Linked DNA regions of Homo sapiens. The protein of the gene in region 1 purifies or fractionates together with the protein of each later gene. This does not show direct contact. Each region holds a gene or a part of one and is shown on either strand. Other genes may lie near its edges.

Region 1 (7,000 bases):
GCTGAGTGTTCACACTGAGCCAGTACCATGCCCACCTGGGTGTCTCGCCTTCTGGCATCACAGTCCCAGCCTCCCTCACTCCCAGTGCTGTTTCTCGTGACCGCAGCCGACCGTGCACTCTCTGTCTCCCACCTCACGCAGCGGATGACGGAGGCTTTGAGAGTGGCGCGTACAACAACAGCGCCATCGCCACCCCGCACCTGGACGCCTTGGCCCGCCGCAGCCTCCTCTTTCGCAATGCCTTCACCTCGGTCAGCAGCTGCTCTCCCAGCCGCGCCAGCCTCCTCACTGGCCTGCCCCAGGTGAGGTGCAAGGGGCGGGAGGAGGGGGTGGGCAGGGAGTAGACAGGCTGCGTCCGGGGCCCAGGCCTCTGCCACGTCTCCCATCCCTGGGATCCCGGGGGGTGTTGCCCACTTTCCCTCCCACCTCCAGGAGGAGGCACAGCCTATGGCTGTGAGTGCAGACTAGGGGCTCCGACTCACCCGCCAGCCCTGGCTGCACTGCTGTGTGTGGCCTTGAGCAAGTCACCTACCTCCTTGTGCCTCAGTTTCCTCATCTGTAAGATGGTGGGTGTAATGAGATGCCACTCTAGTTATGGAGATTGGCGGGGCTAATGCTTTGTATGTAAACACTTAGTGCGAGGCCTGGTGGGCTCACTCAGCGTGAACCGCCATGGCCACAGTGTCCCAGGAACGCCATGGTGCAGGGAGCGGACACCGTTAAGGCACACATGCTCCTATTTTACTGTGGTAAAATGCACAAACATCAACATTCCCATCTTAGCCATTTTTCAGCGCACAGTTCCGGGGCATTAAGTGCATTCACAGTGTTATGCAGCCATCACCACCATCCATCTCCAGAACTTTTCCATCTACCCAAACAGAAGCTCTGTCCCATGAAACACCAGCTCCACATTCTCCCTCCCCATCCCCTGTCTCTATGAATCTGACTGCTCCAGGGGCCACATAAGAGTGGAATCACACAGGACTAGTCCTTTTTTTTTTTGAGTTGGAGTCTCACTCTGTCACCCAGGCTGGAGTGCTGTGGTGCGATCGTGGCTCACTGCAGCCTCTGCCTCCCCGGTTCCAGCGAGTCTCCTGCCTCAGCCTCCCGAGTAGCTGGGATTACAGGTGCGCGCCACCACGCCTGTCTAATTTTTGTATTTTTAGTAGAGATGGGGTTTCATCATGTTGGTCAGGCTGGTTTCGAACTCCTGGCCTCAAGTGATCTGCCCGCCTCGACCTCCCAAAGTGCTGGGATTACAGGCGTGAGCCACCGAGCCCGGCCCCCCTTTTGTGTCCTTACTTCACTCAGCACAATGTCCTCAGGGTTAACCATATGCTGTAGCACGAGTCAGAACTTCCCTCCTCTTCAGGGCTGACTCATATTCCAGTGGATGGATGGGCCCCGTATTTTGCTTCTCCATATTCATCCGTCAGTGGGCACTTGGGTTGCTGCTACCCTTTGGCTGTTGTGAATAAAGCTGCTATGAACATGGGTGTTTAAGGACACTTGTTCTTTTAGTCTCACTCTGTTGCCCAGGCTGGAGTGCAGTGGTGTGATCTCGGCTCACTGCAACCTCCACCTCCCAGATTCAAGCCATTCTCCTACCTCGGCCTCCCGAGTAGCTGGGACTACAGGCGCCCGCCACCACGCCCAGCTAATTTTTGTATTTTTAGTAGAGACGAGGTTTCACCATGTTGGCCAGGCTGGTCTCCATCTCCTGACCTCGTGATCCACCTGCGTTGGCCTCCCAAAGTGCCGGGATTACAGGCGTGAGCCACCACGCCCGGCCGGCAGTCTGAGTTTTTAAAATGTACACATCTTTTACAATATAAAATAACTAGGTAATAAAACAAGGCCTGACCCTGTCTTTTTCACTCTGTAACGTGTGATCATAACAGAAGAGTTCAAAAGTACGGATACGCAAAAAGAACATCAAGGCCACCCTCGTGTCGGTGCACGCCCTGCAGGTCCCCTTCTTTCTGGCGAAGTCCTCCTTTCACGGGAGGGACCCATGGGCCTATCGGGCAGGGAGTGGGAGGTACAGCCAGTGTCTCTGGGTGCTGGCCACTCGAAGTCTAAATCAGGGCCCCGAGAAGGCCCCTGGGGATGGGAGGGCCGTGGGAGAACAGGTGCGGCAGGCGGGCTCTGGCTGTCCGGGGGCCCCGGACCTCATGCGCCTTTGCTGGCAGCATCAGAATGGGATGTACGGGCTGCACCAGGACGTGCACCACTTCAACTCCTTCGACAAGGTGCGGAGCCTGCCGCTGCTGCTCAGCCAAGCTGGTGTGCGCACAGGTGAGGACCCCGTGCCGAGGACAGGGCGTGGGGTGAGGCACAGAGGCCAGGCCAGAGCCCAGGAGGTTCGGCACCTTGTACCAAGGCACGCTCAGCCCCCGTGGCCTGCCCTTAGCTCTTGTCCCAAAGGATCTGGGCCTGGGTCTCCTGGCTGGGCTGTGTGTCCACGAGAACCCACAGTGCGCTTAGGGCCGAGAGGGGCAGAGAAGGGAGCAGAAAGGGTTGGGAGGCTGAAGGGACTCTGGCCAGGCCTCTCTTCCCGCCCAGGCATCATCGGGAAGAAGCACGTGGGGCCGGAGACCGTGTACCCGTTTGACTTTGCGTACACGGAGGAGAATGGCTCCGTCCTCCAGGTGGGGCGGAACATCACTAGAATTAAGCTGCTCGTCCGGAAATTCCTGCAGACTCAGGATGACCGGTATGAGTCGGGGCCCCTGCCCCTTCCCCCTGGCGGCCGGTACCAGAGCACAGCCCGGAGTCTTCCGGCGGGATGCATGGGCCCCCACGTGGCTCGAATGGGGGCAGGGGAGAAGGTTCCAGGTACTCGAGTTAGCCTGGTCAGAGGGAGAAGGGACGTGGGGAAACTGAGGCAGTGAGGGTCACAGGTTGACTTCCAGATACAGAGGAGGAGGCAGAGCCGAGGGGCTTCCTGTGCCACGTGGCAGTGGCCCCGCAGCCTTGGCAATGAGCCTCCTCCCGTGCAGGCCTTTCTTCCTCTACGTCGCCTTCCACGACCCCCACCGCTGTGGGCACTCCCAGCCCCAGTACGGAACCTTCTGTGAGAAGTTTGGCAACGGAGAGAGCGGCATGGGTCGTATCCCAGACTGGACCCCCCAGGCCTACGACCCACTGGACGTGCTGGTAGGACGGCCCCTCCTGTGTTTCAGGACGCCCGTCAGCCCTGGGTCGGGGACCCTGGCCTCCTACGAGCTTGCAGCCCTGGCCCTAGATGATGAAGAAAGAGGCTCTGACCAAATCGGATTCAGGTTCCCAACCTCGGGGCCACAGAGAGAACCGTAGAGAGACGGGGTGGTCCGGAGTGAGGCTGTTCTGGGCTAACCCATTTGCAGGAGGCCCCGGGGAGAAGGCTGGACACCGCTCCCCCGGTCTGTCTGTTCTAAGCCTGGCTCCCCACCGCCTGCCCCAGGTGCCTTACTTCGTCCCCAACACCCCGGCAGCCCGAGCCGACCTGGCCGCTCAGTACACCACCGTCGGCCGCATGGACCAAGGTGGGCTTGCAGAACCGGGCACTGGAGGGGGTGCCACGGCCGGGGTCCCCCATCCTGGGCCAGCGCCCTCTTAGGTCACGGCATAATGTGGGTGAGGGTCCCAGTGTGGCAGGCCCTGTGCTGCAGCTGGCAGAGCCCACATTGAGAGGAGGGGCCTGTGGGTGGCATCAGGACCCAACCCCGGGGCTGCCCTGATGTGGACCTGCTCCTGGGCTGGGGCCTTCGGGTGCCCCAGAGGTTGCGTGAAGACTTCAGATATTTCCAGTCACAGGACCTGGGTCAGATTTGGGGGTTTGGAGTTCCTTAGCATATGCAGATGGAGATCTTGAGGTCTGTGAGTTTTTTGTGGTTGATGGCTTACAGCAACCAAAATTTGTACTCCCACAGTTCAGGAGGCCAGAAGTTTGAAATCAAGGTGTCAGCAGGGCCATGCTCCCCTGAAGGCCTAGGGGAGACCCTGCCTTTCCTCTTCCAACTTCTGGGGGCTGTGCCAGTGCTGGGCGTTCCTGGGCTGGCGGCAGAATCGCCCCCATCCCCGCTGAAGCCTTCACATGGCCTTTTTTCCTGTGTCTCCTCTTTGTGTCTCCACTTCTTCTTTTTTTTTTTTTTTGAGACTGAGTCTTGCTCTGTCACCCACGCGGGAGTGCAGTGGCGCAATCTCGGCTCACTACAACCACCACCTCCCAGGTTCGAGCGATTTTTCTGTCTCAGCCTCCAAAGTAGCTAGGACTGCAATCGCACCGCACGCCACCATGCCCAGCTAATTTTTATATTTTTAGTAGAGACGGGGTTTCACCACATTGGCCAGGCTGGTCTTGAACTCCTGACCTCGTGATCCGCCCACCTCAGCCTCCCAAAGTGCTGGGATTACAGGTGTGAGGCACCGCGCCCGGCCTGTTTCCGCTTCTTATAAGGACCCCGTCGGGTTTAGGGCCTACCTGAGCACTTCAGGATGATTTTGTCCCAAGATCTTTATTCGTGAAGTTCCCCTTTCCAAACAAGAACCCCTTCACAGATTCCAGCACACATGTCTTTTGGGGTCAGGGACGACAGGAGGTCAGGACCTTTGCCATTTCCCTATTGGTGCCATTAATTCTTAGTGAGCTGGGAAGGAGCGGGTATAGAGGAAGCCTTGTCCTCTGGCCCCAGCTGGGAAGGAGCGAGTATAGAGGAAGCCTCGTCCTCTGGCCCCTGCCCTATTTGCTCCATGGGACAGACACGAGATTCCGGAGAACTCAAAAGCCGGCGGGCACCAGGGAGCAGCTGCCTGGGGGTGACACAGAAGTGCCAAGGGATGGCTGGAGTCCCTGGAGGCCCATTCGAGGCCTGCTCAGGGAATGGGAGCTGGGCGGAGCTGGGCAAGAGCTGGGCAAGAGCCAGGGCCATTGGGAAGAACTACAGGGTGCTTTCGAATCCGGAAAGCGCTGGAGCCCAGCGGCCGGATGCAGCAGCAGGTGGGTCTACACACACCACCCGCTGCCTCCCTCCGTGTCTGCGGCTGAGCTCTGCTTCTCGGCCCCTCACCACAGGAGTTGGACTGGTGCTCCAGGAGCTGCGTGACGCCGGTGTCCTGAACGACACACTGGTGATCTTCACGTCCGACAACGGGATCCCCTTCCCCAGCGGCAGGACCAACCTGTACTGGCCGGGCACTGCTGAACCCTTACTGGTGTCATCCCCGGAGCACCCAAAACGCTGGGGCCAAGTCAGCGAGGCCTACGTGAGCCTCCTAGGTATGCCTTTGTCTGTCTCCGTCAGGAAAGGTGTGGGAGTGGATCTGGGACGGGGCCATGACCTGTCAGATGCTGCTCCACACCCATTACCTAATGTGGCTCTCATATCATCTGGGTGAGGAAGGGACTGTCACTCCCACTCTACAGAGGAAAAGAATGAGGCTCAGAGAGGTGAAGTAAGCTGCTCAGGATTGCACAGCTGGTAAGCACTAAGCTAGGATTCTCGCCTGGATCCTGCTGCTTTCAAAACCATTGCCTTTTCCCCGCCTACCTCCGATGAGCTTCAGAATCACCTGGGATGCTTGTTAATATCCAAATTGCAAATCCCAGGGTGTCCGATTCAGTAGATCTTGGCGGGCTCAAGAATTTGCATGTCTGACAAGTTCCCAGGTGATGCCGATACTGTGGGCCTGGGGACCCCTCTCTGAGCATCCGTGCACCCCATCCTGCCTTCCTGGGGGACCCAAAGCACCTCATGACCCTGCTCATTCCTAAAAAGACCTAGGACATCTAGTCCCATGTTATGGATGTGCAGACAAAGACACGGGTGCAGGAAGACTTTGTGAGGGGCTCGGGGTGACCCCTTCGGCACAGGGCAGAGGCTCGTGTGTCCTGCCCACTGCCTGGCAGAGCCTCCAGGTGGGGTGGGCCCGGGACAGCAGGAAACTCAGGTTCCCTTTCCCTCCGAGCTCGCGGCCCACATCTCTCTTGGGGCCCACATCTCTCTCTGGCCCCAAATGATGAGCCAGGAGCACTGTGGCCACACCCACCACAGGGGCTGGAGTACACGAGCTACCAAAAAGGAGACTTCTTTTCCAGTCCATGGGATTTTAGAAGGATCCTAAATGTCACCGAATCAGGGCCTCTTGTTATACCATTCAAGGCACTGAGGCCCAGAGAGATGACGTGGCGGTGAGAGGTGTCGGCTCGACAAGGCACCTCCCGCTGCTGATTGGATTGGAGAAGGGAGCCGCCCAGAGTGGCGTAGGTTCGGCCCTTCCGAGGGCAGCTCCTGTGTGCTGAGGGCTCTGCTGCTCTGAGATGCCGCGTCCCTTCCAGACCTCACGCCCACCATCTTGGATTGGTTCTCGATCCCGTACCCCAGCTACGCCATCTTTGGCTCGAAGACCATCCACCTCACTGGCCGGTCCCTCCTGCCGGCGCTGGAGGCCGAGCCCCTCTGGGCCACCGTCTTTGGCAGCCAGAGCCACCACGAGGTCACCATGTCCTACCCCATGCGCTCCGTGCAGCACCGGCACTTCCGCCTCGTGCACAACCTCAACTTCAAGATGCCCTTTCCCATCGACCAGGACTTCTACGTCTCACCCACCTTCCAGGACCTCCTGAACCGCACCACAGCTGGTCAGCCCACGGGCTGGTACAAGGACCTCCGTCATTACTACTACCGGGCGCGCTGGGAGCTCTACGACCGGAGCCGGGACCCCCACGAGACCCAGAACCTGGCCACCGACCCGCGCTTTGCTCAGCTTCTGGAGATGCTTCGGGACCAGCTGGCCAAGTGGCAGTGGGAGACCCACGACCCCTGGGTGTGCGCCCCCGACGGCGTCCTGGAGGAGAAGCTCTCTCCCCAGTGCCAGCCCCTCCACAATGAGCTGTGACCATCCCAGGAGGCCTGTGCACACATCCCAGGCATGTCCCAGACACATCCCACACGTGTCCGTGTGGCCGGCCAGCCTGGGGAGTAGTGGCAACAGCCCTTCCGTCCACACTCCCATC
Region 2 (7,034 bases), on another chromosome or scaffold:
GAATTCATCCGGAGTATTTTTATTTTCAATTTAATTCTTTTCAATCTGGAAATTACCTCATTCATTGTAGTTTTAATGGCACTCAAAATATTTTAAACAATAAAGTTTATATTCTTGCCTTATTTCTTTACATATTCATTGGCACAACTCTGAAAAAACTAAGTCATAAAAATAGAAAGTTGCTGATTACATGGTGATTACAGCAGCTGGGTAACCATGTACTAATGCTACATAAGGCAGCAGTTAATTGAGAGACTAAAGTTACTTAGAGTACAAATGGAAGTTTAAAATGTGAAATCTGTTGGTTTTAGATCAAAGAGATTTTTCCTTCACTAATCATACTTCCAATTATTTTGATTTCTGATATGAGATATATTTAAGACTTCATAAGAAAAAAGTACAATGTGTATAATTTTGTCAAATCGTGGTAATTAATCAATGGAAGTTAGATTAGCAAATTCACTTCTTTAGTTAAAAAAACACACACACACACACACACACACACAACAAATCAAGGCTTGAGCCTACTTGCCCTCTCTTTAATTTTATGCAACCCTTTATTTTGAGGCTTTAAAATTTAGAACCTGTTTTTAGACATAAAAGTTTTGTTATTTTAAATATGTTTTAATCAACTTGTGACTTCAATAAACTTATTTAAAGAAAAACTTTTCTATTTATAAAGGTAATACATGTTGCTTCAAAAAATATTTCAGAAAATACTCAATAGTATAAATAATATGAAAGCACCCATAATTTCATCACTCAGAGTACATTATGGTTAAGATGTTTGTGTATGGCCTTCCAAACCTTTAAAAAAATGAACATATATATATATGTATGTGTGTGTGTATGTTTCTAATAAGAAAAATCAAAATATTACACATATACAGACAACATATGTTGTTTAATTTTGGAATTCTCAGTTTACCTTTTTTCCATATAATAATGTTATTCATGTCAAAACAGATCACATCTTCATTTTTAACATACGCTAAGTATGCTGATATAAGGACACAATGTAATCCCCTATCAGAGGGCATGCAAGTATTAACTTTTAAGAGTGGTAGGTTCATGAAAAAGAAAGTGGATGTTTAAATCTTATGTTCAAATAGGTTTCTTCTCTTACAAAGCTAGCACACAGGCCGGGCACGGTGGCTCACGCCTGTAACCCAGCACTTTGGGAGGCCAAGGTGGGCGGATCACCTGAGGTTGGGAGTTCGAGACCAGCCTGACCAACATGGAGAAACCCCGTCTCTACTAAAAATACTAAAACTAGCCAGACGTGGTGGCACATGCCTGTAATCCCAGCTACTACGGAGGCTGAGGCAGGAGAATCACTTGAACCCAGGAGGCAGAAGTTGCGGTGAGCCGAGATCACGCCATTGCACTCCAGCCTGGGCAACAAGAGTGAAACTCTGTCTCAAAAAAAAAAAAAAAAAAAAAAAAAAAAAAAAAAAAAAAAAAAAAAAAAAAAAAAAAAAAGCTCGCACACAGATCTAGACTAAGACTAAGAGGTTGCCTTATTGTTGGTTTATGAGATAAAATTAGTTTTAAAATTAACTAGTTCGTTTTATTATTTATCATTATCTGATAATATATGACTTTTATAATTTCAATGAAATAATCACAAATTATGATAATTGGTTTAAATAAACACATACCCATATATAAACTGGCAGTAATTTCTAGAGTGATAAAGAGTTGATGAAAAGTTCCTAACAATTTCATATACATACTCAAAGTAGTCATGTGCTAAATAAAAGCATACATTTAGATTAGCTGAGTAAAAAGTACTAAATGTATATTTTAAGCATATTATACTTCAGAATCACATTTTCAACCGAGATAAAGTTGTGAAGCTGGAAACATAATGCTTCTAACATTCTGAGGTACCATGTCATTGAAAAATTGTCCTTGCTGTTTTGAATCTGCTTTTGGAAGGCAATGGGTATAAAAATAAAGGATTATCAGAAAGTTACTTCCATTAGGAACACTAAACACTTAGCATGTACAACCAGCAAGTTTGAAAATCAATTAAGTCATCAGGCAAATGCAAATTAAAACCAAAATGAACTACTACTTAACAACCACTAAAATGGGTATACTAAAAAAGACAGTAACAATGGTTGGTGAGGATACTAAGAAACGGGAAGCCTCACATATTTCTGATGATAAAGTAAAATGGTACAATTTTGAAAAACAGCTTGGTAATTTCTTAAAAACATAAATATAAACTTACCATACAACCCAGTGGTTCCACTCCTAGGAATCTACTCAAGAGAAATAAAAACATATGTCTACACAAAAATTTGTATGTGAATGTTCACAGCAGCATTATTCATAATAGGCAAACATGGGAAACAACCCAAATGTCCATCAACTGATGAATGGAAACAATATGTGGCATATCCTTAAAATGGAATATTATTCAACAATAAAAAGGAACAAAATACTGATATATCCTGCAATACGAAGAACTTCAAAAATGTTACACAAAGAGCTAGAAACAAAAGATTACATACTATAATTCTATTAACATAAAATGTCCAGAAAAAGTAGCAAGATTAACTTTCTAACAATCACCACCACTATCATCATTTATTGAGTATCAATATATTCCAGTATTTTGTATCTTAAAAGCTTACTGGCAAACGTCAACATCAGTGACTATCATCTTAACTTATACATCGACATTTTACTTGATATAGTTTTAACCAAAAAAAAAAAAGTTATAAGTTCACTAGGACTTATCTAGTTTATACACAGGTTAAATGCTTTAAAAAATATCTCTCTGGCTCCCTGACTTTGGTACATTTTAATTCTCAGTATCTCCACTCAAAATGGGCAAGGTAGAAGAAAACTGTCAAATTCTGTAGTATAGCAACTAATGATGAAAGCATAATTAACAAAATACTTTAAAGAAATACATATATTCCAGTGATCCACGAATAACCAAGAGTTGTCTATGAAAAACAAGATTCATTCTAATTTCTCTCAACTTCAACACAGAAGATATTTTGTGTGAAGGACTAGAGTAGTAAGAATTGATATACACTAGCCTACTAATAGCATACACCTTTGAGAAAATTTATTTTCTTCTACACTAGAATGTGTTTTGCCAACAGAATGACATTCTGTTTTTAGTGTAGTGTTTAGAGGCTTTCTGGTGACGGACAGGATTTTAAAGACCTGGAACTATATCTGAATTGTAAGATTAAGAACTTAAAAAAAGGGCTGGGTGTGGTGGTGCACATCTGTAATCCAGCACTTTGGGAGGCCAAGGCAGGTGGATCACTTGAGGTCAGGAGTTTTGAGACCAGCCTGGCACACATGGAGAAACCCCGTCTCTACTAAAAACACAAAAAATTAGCCAAGTGTGGTGGCAGGTGCCTATAATCCCAGCTACTCGGGAGGCGCAGGCTATAGAATCTCTTGAACCCAGGAGGTGGGGGTTGCAGTGAGCCAAGATCGTGCCATTGCATTCTAGCCTGGGCAACAAGAGTGAAACTCCGTCTCAAAAAGAAGAAAAAACAAAAATTAGCCAGGAGAGATGGTGCATGCCTTTATTTCCAGAAACTCAGGAGGCTGAGGCACGAGAATCACTTCAACCTGGGAGGCAGAGGTTGCAGTGAGCCAAGATTTTGCCACTGTACTACAGCCTGGACAGAATGAGACTCTGTCTCAAAAAAAGAAAAAAACAAAACAAAAGAAAAGAAGTTTAAACAAGATTAAGAAAATGTGAATGGCTTTCCTGAGCCAGGACACTAACAAAATACTACTTAGCCCAGGAAAGAGATATTTTGTAAAATAAAATGTTTGCAAGCTTTTTTGCAGATTGGTTAACTATGTGCATTTTAAACTATAATACTGCAATTAAAAAGATAAAGTAGGAAATCTTAAAAGATATATTCTAACACTGTAATTGGAAAACTCCTAAGAAAAGGTGTTAAAAACCAAGAAAGATGTTAAGTGAGCTTCTGTAACTGTACCAACCTTAACTGCAAAACTGATGAAGACCTAAGGTATTCAAAATGGAATGCACATGATCTCAGGGAGGGGCATAAAAATCCATTGAGGTGCTTGTTAGACTTACAGAAATATCACAAGAATTTTTCTGACAGTAAAAACTTAGGAGAAGAATATGTAAGGACCTTGGTCAAAAGAGATTTTTGTAAACAGGATAATTTCCTATCAAATGGAATCATTTCAGTTTATCAAGAATGCCTGTAAGTTTGACTTTAGTTCTTCACAAGTATATATGGTGTATATTAATAATAAAATTTCACTAATTTGCTAGCATCCACTATCATTAAATTAATGCATTCTTAATTACCTTAAACCTAAAGAAGCTTTTTTATTGAATTAAGGTATTGATAATGGTTGTGCTGTTGGAAATAACCCCCACAGTGAAAGGCAGCAGGTACAATTTAGATCAGAAGTATTAATGCAGTAGAGGAAATCTGACAATTTTTTAAAGAGCTGAAGAAATTTGGATGTTTTAGAGTTATAAGAACTAAGAACAAAATATGGGGCATAAATTCAGGAATAAATCATAACACATTCCAAAGCTTTTGCTGTTTCAACACTTTGAAAGAAACAGTTAAAGAAGGTTTAATTCTAACATTACCGTTGAAGCAGATGGTGGATCTGATGACTGCCCTTGACGGTTCCTTGTGTGCTGGTTTAACCCACTGGGATTTGAAGATGGTGTTGTAGGAAGCTGGGTACTGGCTGCAGGTTGCTGAGATGACTTTACTTTGTGGCTCTTATTTGAGCCATCCAGTCTGCTACTTCTCTCTATGGCAATCAGGTCACGAATTTTTTGCAGCTGCTCCACTGAAGCTTTTTTAGGAAAGATGAGATGTGTTTCTCCCTGGAATTTATAAAATTAAAAAAAATGTGAACCTTTGCTTTATGCAGTCATTCTTTTGTGCACACACACACAGAAATGTATAATGAAACCAATAATATAGAATGCATGTTTCTAAAATCATACTGTTTTCTTACCATTATGGTTCTTTTTAAATACAGCCTAAGGTAAATAATGCCTAAACATAAACCAGAAAATTAAAAAAAAAATTATCTCCTTTTTGGCATTTAATCCTTAGCCTATTTAATGTGGTTCAAAGGACTTTCAGGAAAAAATATTTGATCTTCTAGAAACAATAAGTCAGAAGGCCTCATAAGGGTTGCAAAAATGCATATTCCTATCCTCTCTGCAATAGTATATGATACTACTATTCTCTATGAAATTCCCTATGAAATAATAATGACAGTAGAGATACAGCCACACAAAAGAATCCAGGGTCACATAAAACCAACAAGAAGTTATCTAACAACCTTTGAATCTTGTTAATCTGAGTCTTTAAAGAATAGCTACATGATTAGAAGCCTGTGTATGGGGTCAACTAATTTTTCCACGATAACGAAAAGTACACCCTGATAGTCAATCCAAAACTATGGATGGTTAACAGTAATAGGAAGGTAATCCGAACAAAACAAAAGAAATAAAAATCATGTATTTCAGTAGTGACTCATTTAAAGAATACCTATAAATATGCTAAGAATGCTTTAAAATAAAATGCTACAACAAATTCTATAATGTAAAACAGTAAATTACTCAAAACAAGAAAAAAGGTGAAATGAAATGACAATGTATTTGATCAAATTTCCAGGTATTGAAAAGAAACAATGTTAAAAACAGTAATTTCTCCAACTGCAAACAAGATAAAAAGTTGCAGCTGGGCATGGTGGCTCACGCCTGTAATCCCAGCACTTTGGGAGGCTCACATGGGCAGATTACCTGAGGTCAGGGGTTCGAGACCAGCCTGGTCAACATGGCAAAACCCTGTCTCTACCAAAAATACAAAAATAAGCTGGGCATGGTGGCGGGTGCCTGTAATCCCAGCTACTTGGGAGGCTGAGGCAGGAGAATTGCTTGAACCTGGGAGGCAGAGGTGAGCTGAGATCGTGCCACTGCACTCCAGCCTAGGTGACAGAGCAGGACTCAGTCTCAAAAAAAAAAAAAAAAAAAAGTTGCAACAGTCTGTAGTACACAGACCTGCAGATCATGAGCATTTAAATTAAACTCCAAAATCGACAATATTACTGTATTTCCCTGGTGATGGCAGACCTACAGGAATCAACTGAACAAGACATTACTCAATGACATGAAAGTCAATTCCATCTGAATCCTTTTTAAAAAGCTGGATTAGACCAGCAAGCTCCACGTATGATTCATAATTGCTATAAAAAAGACAACTACAATGTATTGTCTTTGTGTGTTCTAAGTACTGTGCTAGGCATTTTTTTCTCTGAGGCAGGGTCTCCCTCTGTCACCCAGGCTGGAGTGCAGTGGAGTGATCAAAGCTATAACCTCAAACTCTTGGGCTCAAGCGATCTTCCATCCTCAGCCTCCCAGCAGCTAGGACTACAGGTGCATGCCACCACACCTGGATGATTTTTATTTTTTGGAGAGACAGGGGTCTCACTCTTTTGCCCAGGCTGGTCTCAAACTCCTAACCTCAAATGATCCTCCCACCTCAGCCTCCCAAAGCAAAATGCTGGGCGTTTTAAATACATCATCTCAAGTAATACAACTACCCTGAAAAGTAGGTATTAGATTAATACTTTTTTTTTTTTTGGAGACAGAGTTTTGCTCTTGTTGCCCAGTCTGGAGTGCAGTGGTGTGATCTCGGCTCACTGCAACCTCCACCTCCCAGGTTCAAGCAATTCTCCTGCCTCAGTCTCCCAAGTAGCTGGGATTACAGGCATGCGCCACCACACCTGGGTAATTTTTGTATTTTTTAGTAGAGACAGGATTTCACCACGTTGGTCAGGCTGGTCTCAAACTCCTGACTTCAGGTGATCCGCCCACCACAGCCTCCCAAAAAGCTGGGATTATAGGCGTGAGCCACCATTCCCGGCCAATACTCACATGAAAATACAAAGGCTCAGGGAAGTTAACCTGCTTGAAGCCACAGAACAACTGGCAGAGCAGGGATTCAGACTCCATGACCTTAATCGTTATGCTA
Region 3 (7,034 bases), on another chromosome or scaffold:
TTCTCCTGGAATAAAGAAGACATAGATATAAGATAGAAGAAGGTCAGAGACATATATTTTTGAATTAGAAGTGCCAGTGTGAACTCAAAAGGTATTTTATATTTAAATACATGTAGGTATATGTAAGTGCATGTGCATATGTACATGTACACACACGTGCACATCAACACTAGGCTTCCTACGTCTGTTTGCTGAAAAGATCTAGAAATAATAACCAACCTAGTGGAATTGATCTTCCCTGGTTTCCAGATTGTCATCTTGATACAACATTTTCCACAAAAGAAGCCAGGGTTTTTGGAGAAAGACTGATTGTATGTCCAATGCAAGGATTTTAAAAGATGAGCCTGGTGGTGCATCCTGGAAACCTAACCAGATAGTAAGAAAACTGACACTACTTTATGTCGGAAGTATTGAGGAACCAATATGAAGAGGCTTCCAGTGGCCAAAGATGTGACAGTTAGAGCATCAGTGTGGATAATAACAGGAATGGATTGAAATGCATCGAATATGCTTGTCTCTCTGAGTCCATAATACTAAAAAATTAATTGGTCACCTTTGAAGGATAAATAGAAGCCCATATCATTGTTTTGAAAAATTGTAAATAGAAGATATGAGCATTTATCCTGCCTTTTCCATGTACTGTATCATGGGGGATCAAATAATAGACGGGGAGGTTTTTCCTTATAGAAGTATCCCAGCTAATGAATTAAGAAGGGTTGATTGAATTTTAATATCACCACTTCGTAACCTCAAATGAATGAACAGATCAAGACATTGAGTAGCAGTGCTGCTGACATCACAAAAGAAACACCCAGGCATTATTGCCTCCTGATGGGAGAATGCACTACCTTCTATGAAATTATCTTGCTAAATTAATGGAATCTGTATCTCATGTAGCCTCTACATCCAATTTACAGGAGATCAGAAGACAGAAGAACATGTTAAACTACATCATGTGGGTACAGTCAGCAAATTTCAGACGATGGGAAACTGCAGGTCAAACAACCCAGGTTCTTCAACAAATAAAATGCAAGGGAAAAAAAAAAGATGGAGGAGGATCCTGTAGATTAAGAGATTTAGAAGGCATCAAAACAGACTCGCCTGTTTAGGGATGTATATTTCATGGTAATACTAAAGAGAAAAGCAAGAAAGTGATGACCATAGAGGTGTGGTTTGTGATTATTGTTGCGGGGGGCCCCGGAGGGCTTCTTGGCCGTTTGCAAAGTTTTCTTTCTTGGCAAGAGTGTTAGATCCAGGAATGTGCCTTGTAATGATTCATTAAGCTACTTGTTTGTTTCACACAATTTTCTAGATTGATATATTTTACAACTCAAAGGTTAAAAAGTAGATGAAACATAGATCATTCTGCAGATTTTCATTGACCTCTCTCAAGATTGGCAAGTTGTTTGTTTCTTCATGATGTCAGCCAGATAAGTTTCATCACTGTCTCTCTCCTGCTTCTTATAATCCCCATATGTATTTGGGATATGTGGTGAAGAATTTTATCCACTCAACAAGTGTTATGGAACATCTACTATGTGCCAGATGCTATTCTAGGCACTAGGGATACAGCAGTGAACAACACAAAAAAAATCCCTGCCTTCATGGGGCTTATACTGTAGTGGGCGAGATGGGCACTAAGAAATTGGTTACATTAGAAAATGAAACATGCTATAGAGAAATATAATCGGGGAAGAAGGCAGGGGAGTGGTGAGGGGGTACCATTTAAAATAATGTAGGGGGCCTTACTCAAGGGGACATTTGAGTTGAAACCTAGGAGAAGGTGAGAACAGACTGCAGTCTCTGGAGAGAATGTTCCAGGCAGAAGAACAGGGCACTAAGGTGAGCACCCGCCAGACAGTAAAGGAACAGCTGGAATGCTTGGGTGGCTGGACTGAGGGGGAGTGGCAGGAATTGGGGTCAGAGAGGTAATGGGGCGAGAGTTCAAGAGACCTTTTAAGTCCTCCTTAGGACTTGGGCTTTTTCTTGGAGCGAGGTGGGAAACCGCTGGAGACTTGGAGGCGAGGATTGGGTGGCGTGACCGTACGTGTTACTGCAGTGCTCTGGCTGCCGTATTGAGGATGGACTGTGGAGGGGCCAGGTCTGAAGCGGGAAGCTGAGGTAGGAGGATGTTGCTGCAACACAGGAATGCTGATGGTGGTGTGTGGGAGTAATTGGGAAGTGTGCACATTTTGGATGTAATTTGAAGATAGTACCGATAGCATTGGCTGACAGGTCTTAAGTATGGCTTATGAGAGAAAGCAAGGCATCCAGGATGACTCGCAGGTTTTATGCCTCACTAGAATGATGGAGATGCCTTGATCAGAGATGAGGGTGACTCTGGGAGGGGAAGAAAGATGAAAGTGCTCAGCTATCTGAGTGGGATGTGGAGTAGATGGATAGTAGTTGATACAAAGGTCTAGAGTTCAAGAGAGAACTCTGGTCTGGAAAATAGGAGTTTTCATAATATGTGAAACCGTGAGGAACTCACCATGGCAGTGAGTGCCCAGGCCCAAGTGGCCCAAGCAGGGGGACCAGCAAAAGGTTCTAGATGCCTCCCCATCTTCTGAACCTCCCCCAGCTCAATTCCTTTTTCAGGCTGCTCTTCCATTTCCTTTTATGAAAGATACAGGCAAGTAAGTCTGAAGCCAGGCAGATAACTGTTCCTCAGATTTCAGTACAACTAATTTAGTATTATATTACAATTCAAAGACTGCTATTTCCATTATAATTATTATAAGAGAATGAACCAATTATATTTTTCTTGTTAAGCAAACTACATGGTATGTTAGTGTAATGTGAAAAATAGATAACTGAAAGTTTTCAAATCTTAATTCTTACTGACTTTTTGTTTCCAGAAAAGCTTTGACCTGGAAATACTACGCAAAAAAAATTCTTTACTACCTGCGGCAACAGAAGATCTTAAATAATCTTAAGGCCTTTCTTCAGCAGCCAGATGACTATGAGTCGTATCTTGAAGGTGGGTCTTTTCCCATATATGTGGACAGTAGTATTTCTGTAGGTAACTGATTAGTTTTTTAAGACCAGCAGAGGGAATTGTGTTCCTTGTGGTAAAGAAGTGAAAAAGCAAATCATGTTGCGTGGGCTTCTGCAGGTTGGATTATAGGGCCTGATCAATGAGGTAGTTCAAACTATTAAATTTAGAGCTAAGATTTTATCAAAGTCCACTAAAGAAATAGTGTTTTTTAAAGATGCATCATTGGCTTAAAATGTGAGAGTGATACTTTAGCTAATGAAGTAAATTCCTGTTTTTCCGAGCTTTAATGATCATTTCCAAATCAGAAGTAAATGTATCCAATTTTGTCTCCCTGTGACCTTGAGTAAATCCCTTAACCTCTCAGGTTGGAGTTTATTGAGGACAGAATGTTCTTGGGCATCAGTGAGTCTGCTTGTCCGTAATGAAAGGTGAGAAGGAAGAAGTTGAGTGGACAGGCAAGATGAAGGGAGTGGAGAATCTTTTTGTTCTTATTAAGTTGAACAGGAACAAAGTGAGACTTCCATTTTTTTTAAAATGATTTTGAATTCCTACAATATTACACAAACATTCCCATAAATTATGGTTATGAAATACAAATATGACTGGTCGTTTACTTTTATTCCCTACTTCTGATGTTTTACCAGATTGTTGATTTTTTTTTCCATTCCAGTGTATCTCATAGTCATGTTCCCATTCTGTTACTATTCCTTTTTTTAAAAAAAATGTATTTATTTTTAGAGACGGGGTCTTGCTATGTCACCTATGCTAGATTCAAACTCCCGTGCTCAAGTGCCACCACACCTGGCTGGCTTCTGTAACTAGTCTCATGCAGTCTATGGCCACCTCTCCTGGCAACAACTTTCTGAGTAATACTTGCTTTCATGAACATTACCCCCCCTTCCCTCCAAGTCAGCCAAAATACCAGTGCCAGCCCCATTAGAAATCTAGCCTTCACCACTGCATGTGAAACCTGCAATGTGGACAACTGATTTCCCTTTTATATTTAACCTCTACCTGCTTTTCAATGCCCTGCATAATCTGGTCCAGACCTTTGCTCCGTACTCTCCAGGATGTCCCATTTGCTCCAGCCAGGCCATTGTCTAGACTGGTGCCCCACAAATACACCTGGCTTCACTTCCTCATTCATGATATCCCTCCTTCTCATAATCCCTCTTGAAAATCCTACTCCCCCTCCATAATTCAGCTCAAGCCTCACTTCCATTAAATTTCCACTGACTACTTGGAGATTTTACTCACCTCAGAGCTACAGTAGCATTTAATAGTAAGCTGTCTTGCATTTTTTCTGTTTCCTGTGTATACATTTGTTTCTGTAACTAGTCCCTAAGCTTCCCGTGTTGTGGTCCTTGTGTTAGGATCACTGTATACCTCACAATGCTTAGTGTAAATGTTTATCAAGTGTATGAAAACCTAGTATCATCCAAAAGGAAATGAAACATCTGTTTCAGTTGATTAAAATAAATTCTCACTGCTAGAATCCCCTCATTTGTATACTGGAGTTGAGAAGCATCCTATCTTCTGTTTATTTCACAGTTAAGAATAGTATATTTTTTTGTAGCTTATGTATGAAAACAAATACTCCTTTTTCATTTTCTAAATACAAAGTTATAATTTTCAAAGAACTTCCACATCAGTGTCATAAGCATTGAGAAGCCATTGGAAGTTGTTTAGTAGTTGAGTGAATGACAGTTGGCTCTCCAAGTTTCTGATCCTTGGTGACTGACTGGAATAATGCTGATGCCATCGAAGAAGTCTGGGAATCATAGCATTAGGAAGGAACGGACTTCAGAAATGTGCAGCATAAACTGCTTCAGCTTCCAGGTAGGGAAGCTGGGGCCCTCGGAGGCCGAGGAGACAGTCCCTGGCTGGTGGCAACACTGGGACTGGGGTCGAGGTGTCTTGACACCCGTTCAACTGCTTTGAGCTCTGGAGCATTGGTAAGGGAGTCCAGGTTCTGAGCTGGTCTGAGATCTCTTTAATTTAAGGTGACTCGAGAGCTTCCCACATAACGGTGTCCTTACCCAAATGATGCTGTTAGCCCTTCAGTCTCTGCTTCCAAAATTACCTAAGACTGTGAAGAGGAGTGATTCTTAAGAGACTGTCTGCAGTGTGCTCTGCACAGCTTTTCAGCTGTAGGTTCCCCGAGCATAACTGTTTATCTCATTGGAAAGTGGGGTTAGCTCCAGAATCCATTTACTGTTCACCCTTGAGATGTGTAATTTGTTGAAATGGCACATCTGTCATGGAGGGCTTTCAAGTTGTTTTTTTTTGTTGTTTTGTTTTTTTAAAGGAACTGCCTTATACCATTAAGTTTTCAGAGTTGTTGGATTTGGAACCTATAACAGCTAGGGAGAGAGAAGTAGCTTGAAAAGATCTCCTTGATGTCATTTACTTCTCTTTGTAATAGAACATGAAACTGCGCCATATACCACGCAGTTTTTTAGTCCATGACTTCTGAGAGAAGTTTGATTTATGTATTTTTTTTTTTAAAGTTAAAGCTACTTTGTTATGAAAATGTTTGTTGCTCCTTCTCAGTGTGTTAGCAGCAAGGTCCATGGCCAAAACATGAAGCTTGTCCAGTGGGATGGTGTAAAGAGCCATGTCCCAGGATGTCCAGGGTAAAATTGCAAACTAATAAGAAAAGGGTAACGTGAGAATTTATTCGGTAATTCTTGTTCATTTTCAGGTGCTGTATATATTGACCAGTACTGCAATCCTCTCTCCGACATCAGCCTCAAAGACATCCAGGCCCAAATTGACAGCATCGTGGAGCTTGTTTGCAAAACCCTTCGGGGCATAAACAGTCGCCACCCCAGCTTGGCCTTCAAGGCAGGTGTGGCATTGCTTTGGATCCAGCTGTATTTATGAAAGAAAATCTAGAGGAATTGGTTAATTTGAGAGATTTGTTAGTGTGCTGCCATTATGTCATGAAAAAGTGATAAAATGACGTGACCACGTGTTTACCTGGTTGAAGTGTTGAACCTAAAACACTTCAAATACATACTGCCTTCTGCTTCCTAGATTGGCAACACTTGATTAATATTGTTAGGCCATTGCCAATGTCTTCATGTTGTGAGTTGTTTGGGGCACCTGTCACAACCTTTTTTGTGCTTGGGTCCCAGAGTAGATCTCTGTGTTTCAGGTGAATCATCCATGATAATGGAAATAGAACTCCAGAGCCAGGTGCTGGATGCCATGAACTATGTCCTTTACGACCAACTGAAGTTCAAGGGGAATCGAATGGATTACTATAATGCCCTCAACTTATATATGCATCAGGTAAATATAGGTACAGTAATATATGGGTATAGTAATATAGGTATAGTAACTTTTTTTTTCTGTTTTTAGAGACAGGGTCTCGCTCTGTTGCTCAGGCTGGAATGCAGTGGCGCGATCATAGCTTACCGCAACCTCAAACTCCTGGGCTCAGGCGATCTTGCCGCCGCACCCTCCTGAGTAGCTAGGACTACATGCCACCACACCCGGCTAATTTTTTATTTTTTGTAGAAATGAGGTCTTGCTATGTTGCCCAGCCTGGTCTCAAACTCCTGGCCTCAAGTGATCCTCCTGCCTTGGCCTCCCAAAGCGCTGGGATTATAGGTGTGAGCCACTGTGCCCATCCTATATGTATTTTTTTAAGCTTCTCTCTGATGGACCGTACATTCTTGAAGGTCAGTACTATGCCTTCCATCTCTGAGTGCTCGATGAAACTTATTTTTCCTTCTGCTGTAAGGATATTGTTGTGGAGTTTATCTGTTTCCTCATGGAGTATCCTCCATATGCAAACCCTTGAGATAAATTTTTGACTAAAAATAGATATTTCTCTGACTCTGTTTGGTCAGTTTGTATCTTGTGAACACTAAACTGTAAAACTAATCAGGGTCCTCTTTGCACTGGCCTCTAGCCATTTGGGAGAACCTGTGGCCCAGCTGTGTCAAGTTTGCATCTGTTATATTTATTTTTTATTTGCTTTCTGCCTAGTTCCATTTTCATATTTAGTTTGTTGCCCTGTCTGCTA

The links.
Region 2: the proteins of SGSH (region 1) and NGLY1 purify together in Homo sapiens (co-immunoprecipitation; 2 studies listed by BioGRID and IntAct, with this or other methods). This does not show direct contact.
Region 3: the proteins of SGSH (region 1) and FBXO21 purify together in Homo sapiens (co-immunoprecipitation; 2 studies listed by BioGRID and IntAct, with this or other methods). This does not show direct contact.

Annotation. Positions count from the first base shown.
Region 1 is NC_000017.11:80,210,334-80,217,333, reverse strand, and holds part of SGSH (N-sulphoglucosamine sulphohydrolase isoform 1 precursor), read left to right. Parts: intron 1-141; coding exon 142-302; intron 303-2,195; coding exon 2,196-2,301; intron 2,302-2,568; coding exon 2,569-2,719; intron 2,720-3,005; coding exon 3,006-3,162; intron 3,163-3,448; coding exon 3,449-3,530; intron 3,531-5,059; coding exon 5,060-5,263; exon of another isoform or gene 5,264-5,410; coding exon of another isoform or gene 5,411-5,465; intron 5,466-6,146; coding exon of another isoform or gene 6,147-6,286; exon of another isoform or gene 6,287-6,322; coding exon 6,323-6,882; 3' UTR 6,883-7,000. UniProt on the Homo sapiens protein: Catalyzes a step in lysosomal heparan sulfate degradation.
Region 2 is NC_000003.12:25,759,439-25,766,472, forward strand, and holds part of NGLY1 (peptide-N(4)-(N-acetyl-beta-glucosaminyl)asparagine amidase), read right to left. Parts: intron 4,874-7,034; coding exon 4,628-4,873; intron 1-4,627. UniProt on the Homo sapiens protein: Specifically deglycosylates the denatured form of N-linked glycoproteins in the cytoplasm and assists their proteasome-mediated degradation. Cleaves the beta-aspartyl-glucosamine (GlcNAc) of the glycan and the amide side chain of Asn, converting Asn to Asp.
Region 3 is NC_000012.12:117,173,466-117,180,499, reverse strand, and holds part of FBXO21 (F-box only protein 21), read left to right. Parts: intron 1-2,858; coding exon 2,859-2,980; intron 2,981-5,702; coding exon 5,703-5,849; intron 5,850-6,158; coding exon 6,159-6,295; intron 6,296-7,034. UniProt on the Homo sapiens protein: Substrate-recognition component of the SCF (SKP1-CUL1-F-box protein)-type E3 ubiquitin ligase complex.